2 linked regions of the Homo sapiens genome follow. The protein of the gene in region 1 purifies or fractionates together with the protein of each later gene. This does not show direct contact. Each region holds a gene or a part of one and is shown in the gene's direction. Other genes may lie near its edges.

Region 1 (3,743 bases):
GCATGACAGATGTGTTAGTCCAGACAACTGGGTCATCGAATGAATTGAAATTCAATTTACACATAGGGATTAAGTATCTCAGTATTACCCTTGCCACATCAAACTTCATTGACAGAGCCAAGAGGAAAATGAAAGTCATTCAATGTTAAGAAAAGGGAAACAAGATTCTAACATGGAAAGGGAATATTTTGCTTACTTTTAAGACTGTAGGTTACTTAAATAGATGCAATGCAAGCTATAGGAGGTTTGGGGCAGATGGTCTCCTAGGCTTAAAATGGAGAGATTTTAAACTACGAGGATCCTGGAGGTCTTGTGACATGTAACTCTGAAACCTCAGTCCAAGGCCAATTTGGTTTAAGTAATCTCAGTCAAATATTTATTTTGTGGCCATGCATTTTGAGAGGGACAGAGAACACAGGTCATTCAAAACATGCCTTCAATGAGTTGTACTCTGCTGAGGGGCAAGAAAAATGCACATGAAACAATGAAAAGTAACAGTGAGGGTTTATGTCTTAAACTGTTCATATGCTACAAAATCCTAAAATAGTACTTTATAATTAGGAGGTGTATAAGGAGTGGAGAAGTCACAGCCTGTTTCATAGTAGCCAGGATTTGAGAGAAGAAACCAGGAGGTCCTCCAGGGGAAGTAAATGGGACAAAGTTTAAGACAAGCAGGACGGAGAATGGCTTTTTCATGGGAGCACGAATGGTGGTTCAACCCAAGCGGTGTTTACTGAGCATCTACTATATGCCAGGCACTGTGACTGGGGGAGGGAAGCCTTGCCTTTAAAGGAGCTGAGAGCCTAAGAGGAGGCAGTTGATGATAGAGCTGTAGAACACAGGGCTCCTGACACAGTTCACAAGCTTTGGGAATTACAATCTGGAATGGTGATAGCCTTGGAAACCAGTGAAACAGGGTGGCGTCAGATTGCAGAGTTAAGCTCTGACCATTCTACTAGAAAAGTTGCAGCACACTCTTGGCTCAGGGTGGTCCAGGCCACTGGAACACCAGTCCCTAAGGTTTCAGTTCTCAGAATCCACCAGTGTGATAGCTCAAACAAAATAGATTCCCATGCTTTGCTTTCAGTTGGCACTGAGGCCTGGTGGAGAATGTGGGCTCAGGTTTAAAGTGCTTTAGCCTTGCTAGCCAGCTGCTGAAACCTGAGAAAATAAAGTGGTACTGTTACAGAGGGTTGGACCTGTCCTCTTAGGAAGGTTCCAATCACAGCGACTGCTGGAAGAGAAAATTTTATTTTAAGATTAAATCTAATGAAAGCCAGTGTAGTAAGGGAAACATTATTTTATAATTTCTGTTAAGAGCAAACATTCTATATGATTTTTAAAAATAGAGCAATAATGAGTGTTGCCTGTTTCCAAACAAGCGTTGTTTAAAAGCTGCCTGTCTGCTTTATTATTTTTTTCCTGGGCTTTTGCGAGATAATGGTAGTAAAATATCAATTTACTAAAACCATTTTTTAAAGTCTTATACCTCTACTCTGTCTCCAGTTCATGCAAGTTCTTCTTTTGGCAGGATTAGGTTGAATTTTAATACTAAACTCTTACTGAAGAGTTAAGAAGCTGTGGAACTGGTATACTTAGTGACTGATCCCTCTCCATATTAAGCGTGTGATTTGCTATTACCAGTTGCCAGTAATAGAAAAAGAATGTGCTCGTGTGGGTTTATCTGTATTTGTCATTAAGGCTTTGCTAAGCCAATGAGCCCTAGAAGCAGGCGTGCAGTGGGCTTTCTCCCTGTCAGGTGAGCCTCACGGGCGCTGCTCCTCTCCGGGCACTGTGGCTGGCCTCAGCACAGGTCTGGGCTGGGGTAGAAAGGCCTGCATGGCCTGAGGACCCAGGTGACTGGGGATCTCTCATCTGTAGCGGTAAAGTTCTGAGTATTGCCAGGCCTGCAAGCACTGGTAGGATTTGATGGATCCCTGGGTGATTATTTAGCCTAAGCTAAGCCGTAATACCTTTGCATACATCCCCAAGAAAGTCCTAAGTGTTTTGTTCCCTTTCCAGTAAGGGAGTGACAAAGAGAATGCCCAAGATGGCTTATAACTAGCATTGGGATGGCTGAAAGTCAGGTAAGTTTAGTGGAATGCAACAAAATAAGCCCAAGATAGGAGTTTAGATCTCCGAAATGTTTTCATTCTACTGGTTTAAGCTGTGTAGGCTTCCCTTGCAGGTTATTAGTCCGTGCTCACCTCTCAAATTGCTGTTAAGTTGTCAGGGTGCCTGAGGAAGACTGTGGCCAGAGATGTGGATTCAGACTACTGTGGGAGTGGGAGGGGTAGTCACTGCAGTATGTACCTGAACAATCAGATATACAAGTGTGTTTCTTAATCTCTCAACATCCTGACTCCCTTGTCTTTCCTTTCTCAGAGAGCAGAGCTGACATCTGATAAAGACATGTACCTTGACAACAGCTCCATTGAAGAAGCTTCAGGAGTGTATCCTATTGATGACGATGACTACGCTTCTGCGTCTGGCTCGGGTAAGGTGGCTGCTTCTAAACACTGGACCTCATTCTCCAGGCATGCACGCACACACATTTTACTGTGCTTACTTCAAGGAGACAGGCAGGATGCACAGTGGTTAAGGGCACCGTCTTTGGAATCAAAGGGCCTGGGTGCTAATTCTAGCTCTCTCTGCCACTTACGCTGTGAGATCTTGAGAATTTATTTGCTGAGCCTCAGTTTCCTCCTTTATAAAATGGAAAGTAACAATAGTCCTTACCATAGAGTTGTTGTGAGGATTAAAAGGGAGTTGACACATCTAAAGCTCTTAGATTTGGGGGCTTGGCACATAGTGCTCTGTCAACATTAGCTTTTAATCGTATTAAGACTTTCAGAGTGATGTCATGGAAACCACCCTTCAAGAAATCCCTCAAACACTGGTTTCATAAAACCACCTACCCTATGTTAAAAATTGTAGATGAGACCAAGAAGTTAATACGTTTTTATTCCTAGGGTATTGTAGGAGGAAAATGCAGCAGCCAAGTAAAATGATTATGTAGTGACATGATCAGATTCCTTAGTATATTATTCCTTAATAGTTATCTGTTACCACTCTAAGGCTACATAATAAACCACCCCAAAACTTGGTGGCTTAAAGTAACAGTCATTCATTTAACTTATTATTCTGTAGGTTGGTGATGTAGGCTGGGCTGGCTGGGCTCCCTCACATGTCAGTGGTCAGCTGCCGGTTGAGTGTACAGCTTTAGGTTGGGTTTGCAGCTTTCGGGTACTCATATCCCTGGGGCAGCTGAGCAGACTTGGGTTCTGTTCGTGTGGTCTCTCATTCTCCAGTAGGCAAGCTATTTTTTCACAGTAACAGCAAGTAGAAGTGTGCAAAGCCTCTTGCAGCCAGGCCTTAGAACTGGGCACAGCATCACTTTTACTACATTTTACTGGTTGAAGCAAGTCAGAAGGCCAGAACAGACTCCACCTCTTAGTGAAAGGATTCATAAAGTCACATTTACAGAGGATATGTATACACGGAGGATTAAGGGATTCTGGTCACATTTACAATCTACCATAATTGATGAATATTTCCCCTGTTCTCAGAATGGCCCCTGTATGAGTTCATTCTCACCCTGCTAACAACACAGGGACTGGGTAATTTATAAAAGAAAAGAGGTTTAGTTGACTCACAGTTCAGCATGCCTGGGGAGGTCTCAGGAAACTTACAGTCATGGCAGAAGGGGAAACAAACATGTACTTCTTCACATGGTGGCAGCA
Region 2 (3,743 bases), on another chromosome or scaffold:
CTGCAGGCTGGTGTTCACAGCTGCCACTAAATTAGGAGGTGTTGCCTACAGTTGTTGGGAGGCAGCTGGAGGCCTCTTGGGCCCCTCCTGGCCTCCCTAGATTTACTGCAAGCTCTGGAGCCCCACGTGGCAGGGGACCAAGGTAGCAGGAAACTCTGTTTATGTCTATGAAAGGTAGGGCCTGAACCAGGATGATCTCAGCGGAGGAGGGGACAGGACCCCAATGTGGGGCCTCCGGACCTCTTGGCCTTTGTCCCGTTTGGGCTTTCCCTGGGCCAGACTTACCTAAAGATGCAGCAGAGTCCCTGGGGGACCATTTATCACCAGGGCACCAACAGAGGACCCCTCAGGATTGCTGGAGGCTCAATTCCCTGAGTCCAGTGGTCAGGCCCTGGGAGCAGGCCATAACTGGGGAGTGCTTGGCTCTCAGGCTCCATGAGAGCCAGCTGGAGGGCAATGGCCGCACCAGGGCCTGCACTCCCCACAAGCTCCCTCTGGGCAGCCGGTAGTGCATACTGTTCAGTTCCTCTGCAGAGAGTGGAGGGAGCCATGTCTCCAGGGAAATGGCTGTTGTGGAGCTCCCATGCCCTTCCATGGCCTAAGTGTACCTGAGGAAGAGCTCAGATCCTGTGTTGCTGAGAGGAGAGCTCTCCATTGTTGGGTGTTGGGTCTGGGCCATGGGGGTGAAAAATACAAACCCCTTCCACTTGGCCTCCTCTCTTTCTGAGAGCTGTCCCTTGGCTGTTCCTCCCAGGTCTCCTTTGTTGCAAGCAGGTGCCCAGGGCTTGGTGCACACACCCGAAACCTCCCAGGGAGCAACAGTGGATAGCAGATGGTGGAGTGGGTGTGGGCAGAGGGAACCAAGGTGCTAATTGAAAGCCAGGCCCCTCTTTCTCCTCTCTTTGCCCTGGGGCCAAGTCCAGGGCCCCAAGCCAGTATACTTAGACTGGTGAGGAGGAGGAGGAGGAGGAGTGACTGGCTGAAATTTGGGCAGCCATAGTAGGGGGCAGGGGAGACAGATCTGTTCCCATCTCAGCCTTGAGGCTTCAGGACATGGCTCCAGGCTGACATTACGGGGTGGAGGCCCAGTTTTCTGTGCCTTTCATGGGACAGACCCCCATGACCAGCCCTGGACCTCAGTGGGCACGAATGCATATGCAGAGCCGAAAGCTGGGGCCAGGATCAAGGACAGGCATGCACAAAACCTCCCACCCACGCCACACTGGCAAAGCTGGGAGCTGTTGGAGTGGGGTGGGGGGTGGGGCATGGAGGTTGTGGAAGGTATCTCAGAAAAGGGCCATTTTGAGTCTGGCCTTCGAGCATCAGGATTGTTTTGGACAATGTGTTGCACAAACCACCTTATAATGTCAGAAATCACAATGAAAGAAGAGATTCAGTTCTGCTCTCAGCACCTCGCTCATGTGGCAGCTGCTCCACAGGAAAGCCAAGGTGGGCAGAGCTCTTGCCAGTGCCCACACTTCCTACCATTGAGTGGACACAGTTGAGCTGGCGAGTCACCTGTTGTTGGACATTTAGGTAGTTGCTGAATTTTTTTTAATGTTATAAATAACTCTGCCGTGACAAATAGGAATCTGACGGGAGGCTTTTGGGGGAAGGGCACTCTTGCCAGAGGGAATGGTGTAAGCAAAGCAACAGAGCCAGGGCACAGGTCCCTCCCAGCCTTCTTGGGAGACTGCAGGCTAAGGTACCATCCTCCTGCCCAGTACACGGCCCTCAGACTGAGATGACTGTTGCAGGCCCCCTCCTGCAGCTGTTATGGTGTGAAAATGTGTAGCCGGCAATGGTAACTGGCTATGCCTCTGCTCTCAGCTGTGAGGATGGGATTCTGGCCACATGCTTCTCCCCAGTGGAGGAGTGCAGGGTTGTGCCCATGGTGGCAGACATGCAGTCAGTGACGATCTTCAAAGCCTCTCCTTTGTCTCTGCTGTGCCTCGCAAGATGGCTTAAACCCTGTCTGGAATAATGCTGATGAAATGCATTTGTATTCCCTGAGCCCAAGCAACCCAGATGAAGGAATGATAGAGTTTGTTCCCTAATGCTGAAGGCAAATCTGAGGGAGAATTTCCAGGGCTGTGACTCCTGGGAATCACAGCCTGGTGGCTGGCTTCTGCCTGGGAGGAAGCAAGTAGCAGCCAGGGTTGGCTATGGGGCTCGTTTGGGTCCTGGTCTTTGACTTTGGCTGGCAGAGTTCATCTTGCCAAGCTGCCTCCTTTGCCTCCTCCCTTCTCCACTACCTTGAGGCTGTGAGTGCCTTCAGGTCGGGGAGCATCTAGGTACCCCCAGGCCCTAGCTCAGGCCCTGCACACAGCAAGTGCTAATTGGCATGGAGGGAAAACATGCACAGTCAGCAGAGGCAGAGCAATTTCAGCGCAGCCTCAGTGCAGAGCTTGCTGTAGCCCCAGTGTCACACTGACCGGGTATTATGGAGGCACACCCTGGCGTCAGATCTGTGAAGGTCTAGTCAGTAACCCCCCACCCCCAGCTTTGAGCATGGGCTATGAGTGCCTTTTCCTTTGGACACTGGAGTCAGCCCCCCTAGCACTACAGATGAGGATTGGGCTGTAATTGGCAGGATTGCAGACCTGTGGGACACCGTGCCCCAGGTGGAAAGAGTGCCTAGCGCTCACTGAGCCAGCTATATCTGTTCTGTTTGGGGGCCTTGCACCTGGACCTGACAGCCCAGGTCCCCTGTGGGCCCCAGTGGGCATGAATGCATATGCAGAGCCGAAAGCTGGGACCAGGATCAGGCTTGTTTTGCTCTTCCTGACCAGTACACCTGCATACCTCCTGGCAAATCTTTTCCTACTGAGTCCTAATGCTGCCTCCAAAGCTTTACCTTGCCTCTCCACCCAGATTATCCCTCTGAGGAATCCCCCAAGCACTGTGCCTGAGTGCAGTATTTACTAAATTCATCGAAGTCATTATAGTAAAATAGTAAAAATTCGCACAGAAAATTAGTAAACAAAAGATATGTCTGCCTTTTTGACATCCAATTCTTTGCCCAGGAGAGAACTCTTATTTCCTTCAGTATTCTTCCAGAAAAGAGTTTGTGAGGGTACATCAGTATGTAAACTTTAAAAAATTTACCCAAGCCAGGTATGGTGGCTCATGCCTGTAATCCCAGCACTTTGGGAAGCTGAGGTGGGAGGATCACTTGAGCCCAGGAGTTCAAGAACAGCCTGGGCAACGTAATGAAATCCTGTATCTACAAAAAAATTTTTAAAAATTAGCCAGTTGTGGTGGTGTGCACCTATGGTCCAGTCCTAGCTACTCAGGAGGCTGAGGTGGGAGGATCGCTTGAGCCCAGGAGGTTGAGGCTGGAATGAGCTGTGATCATTCCACTGCATTCCAGCCTGGGTGCCACTGCATTCCAGCCTGGGTGACAGAACAGCTGGGCATGGTGCGGGTGCCTGTAATCCCAGCTGCGGTGGGAGGATCGTTTGAGTTCAGGAGCTCTGGGCTGCAGTGCGCTATGCCAGTTGGGTGTCTACACTAAGTTTGGCATTAGTATGGTGACTTCCTGGGAGCTAGAGCTCATCAGGTTGCCTAAAGGAGGGGTGAAGCAACCAAGGTCAGAGACGAAGCAGGTCAAAACTCCTGTGCTGATCAGTAGTGGGCTTGTGCCCATGAATAGCCACTGCACTCCAGCCTGGGCAACATAGTGAGACTTGTCTCTAAAAAAAGAAAGAAAGAAAGAAAAGAAAAGAAAAGAAATAGGTCTT

What was found.
Region 2: the proteins of SDC2 (region 1) and CAMKV purify together in Homo sapiens (affinity purification with mass spectrometry; 4 studies listed by BioGRID and IntAct, with this or other methods). This does not show direct contact.

The regions. Positions count from the first base shown.
Region 1 is NC_000008.11:96,591,095-96,594,837, forward strand, and holds part of SDC2 (syndecan-2 precursor), read left to right. Parts: intron 1-2,385; coding exon 2,386-2,497; intron 2,498-3,743. UniProt on the Homo sapiens protein: Cell surface proteoglycan which regulates dendritic arbor morphogenesis.
Region 2 is NC_000003.12:49,863,329-49,867,071, reverse strand, and holds part of CAMKV (caM kinase-like vesicle-associated protein), read left to right. Parts: intron 1-3,411; exon of another isoform or gene 3,412-3,697; intron 3,698-3,743. UniProt on the Homo sapiens protein: Does not appear to have detectable kinase activity.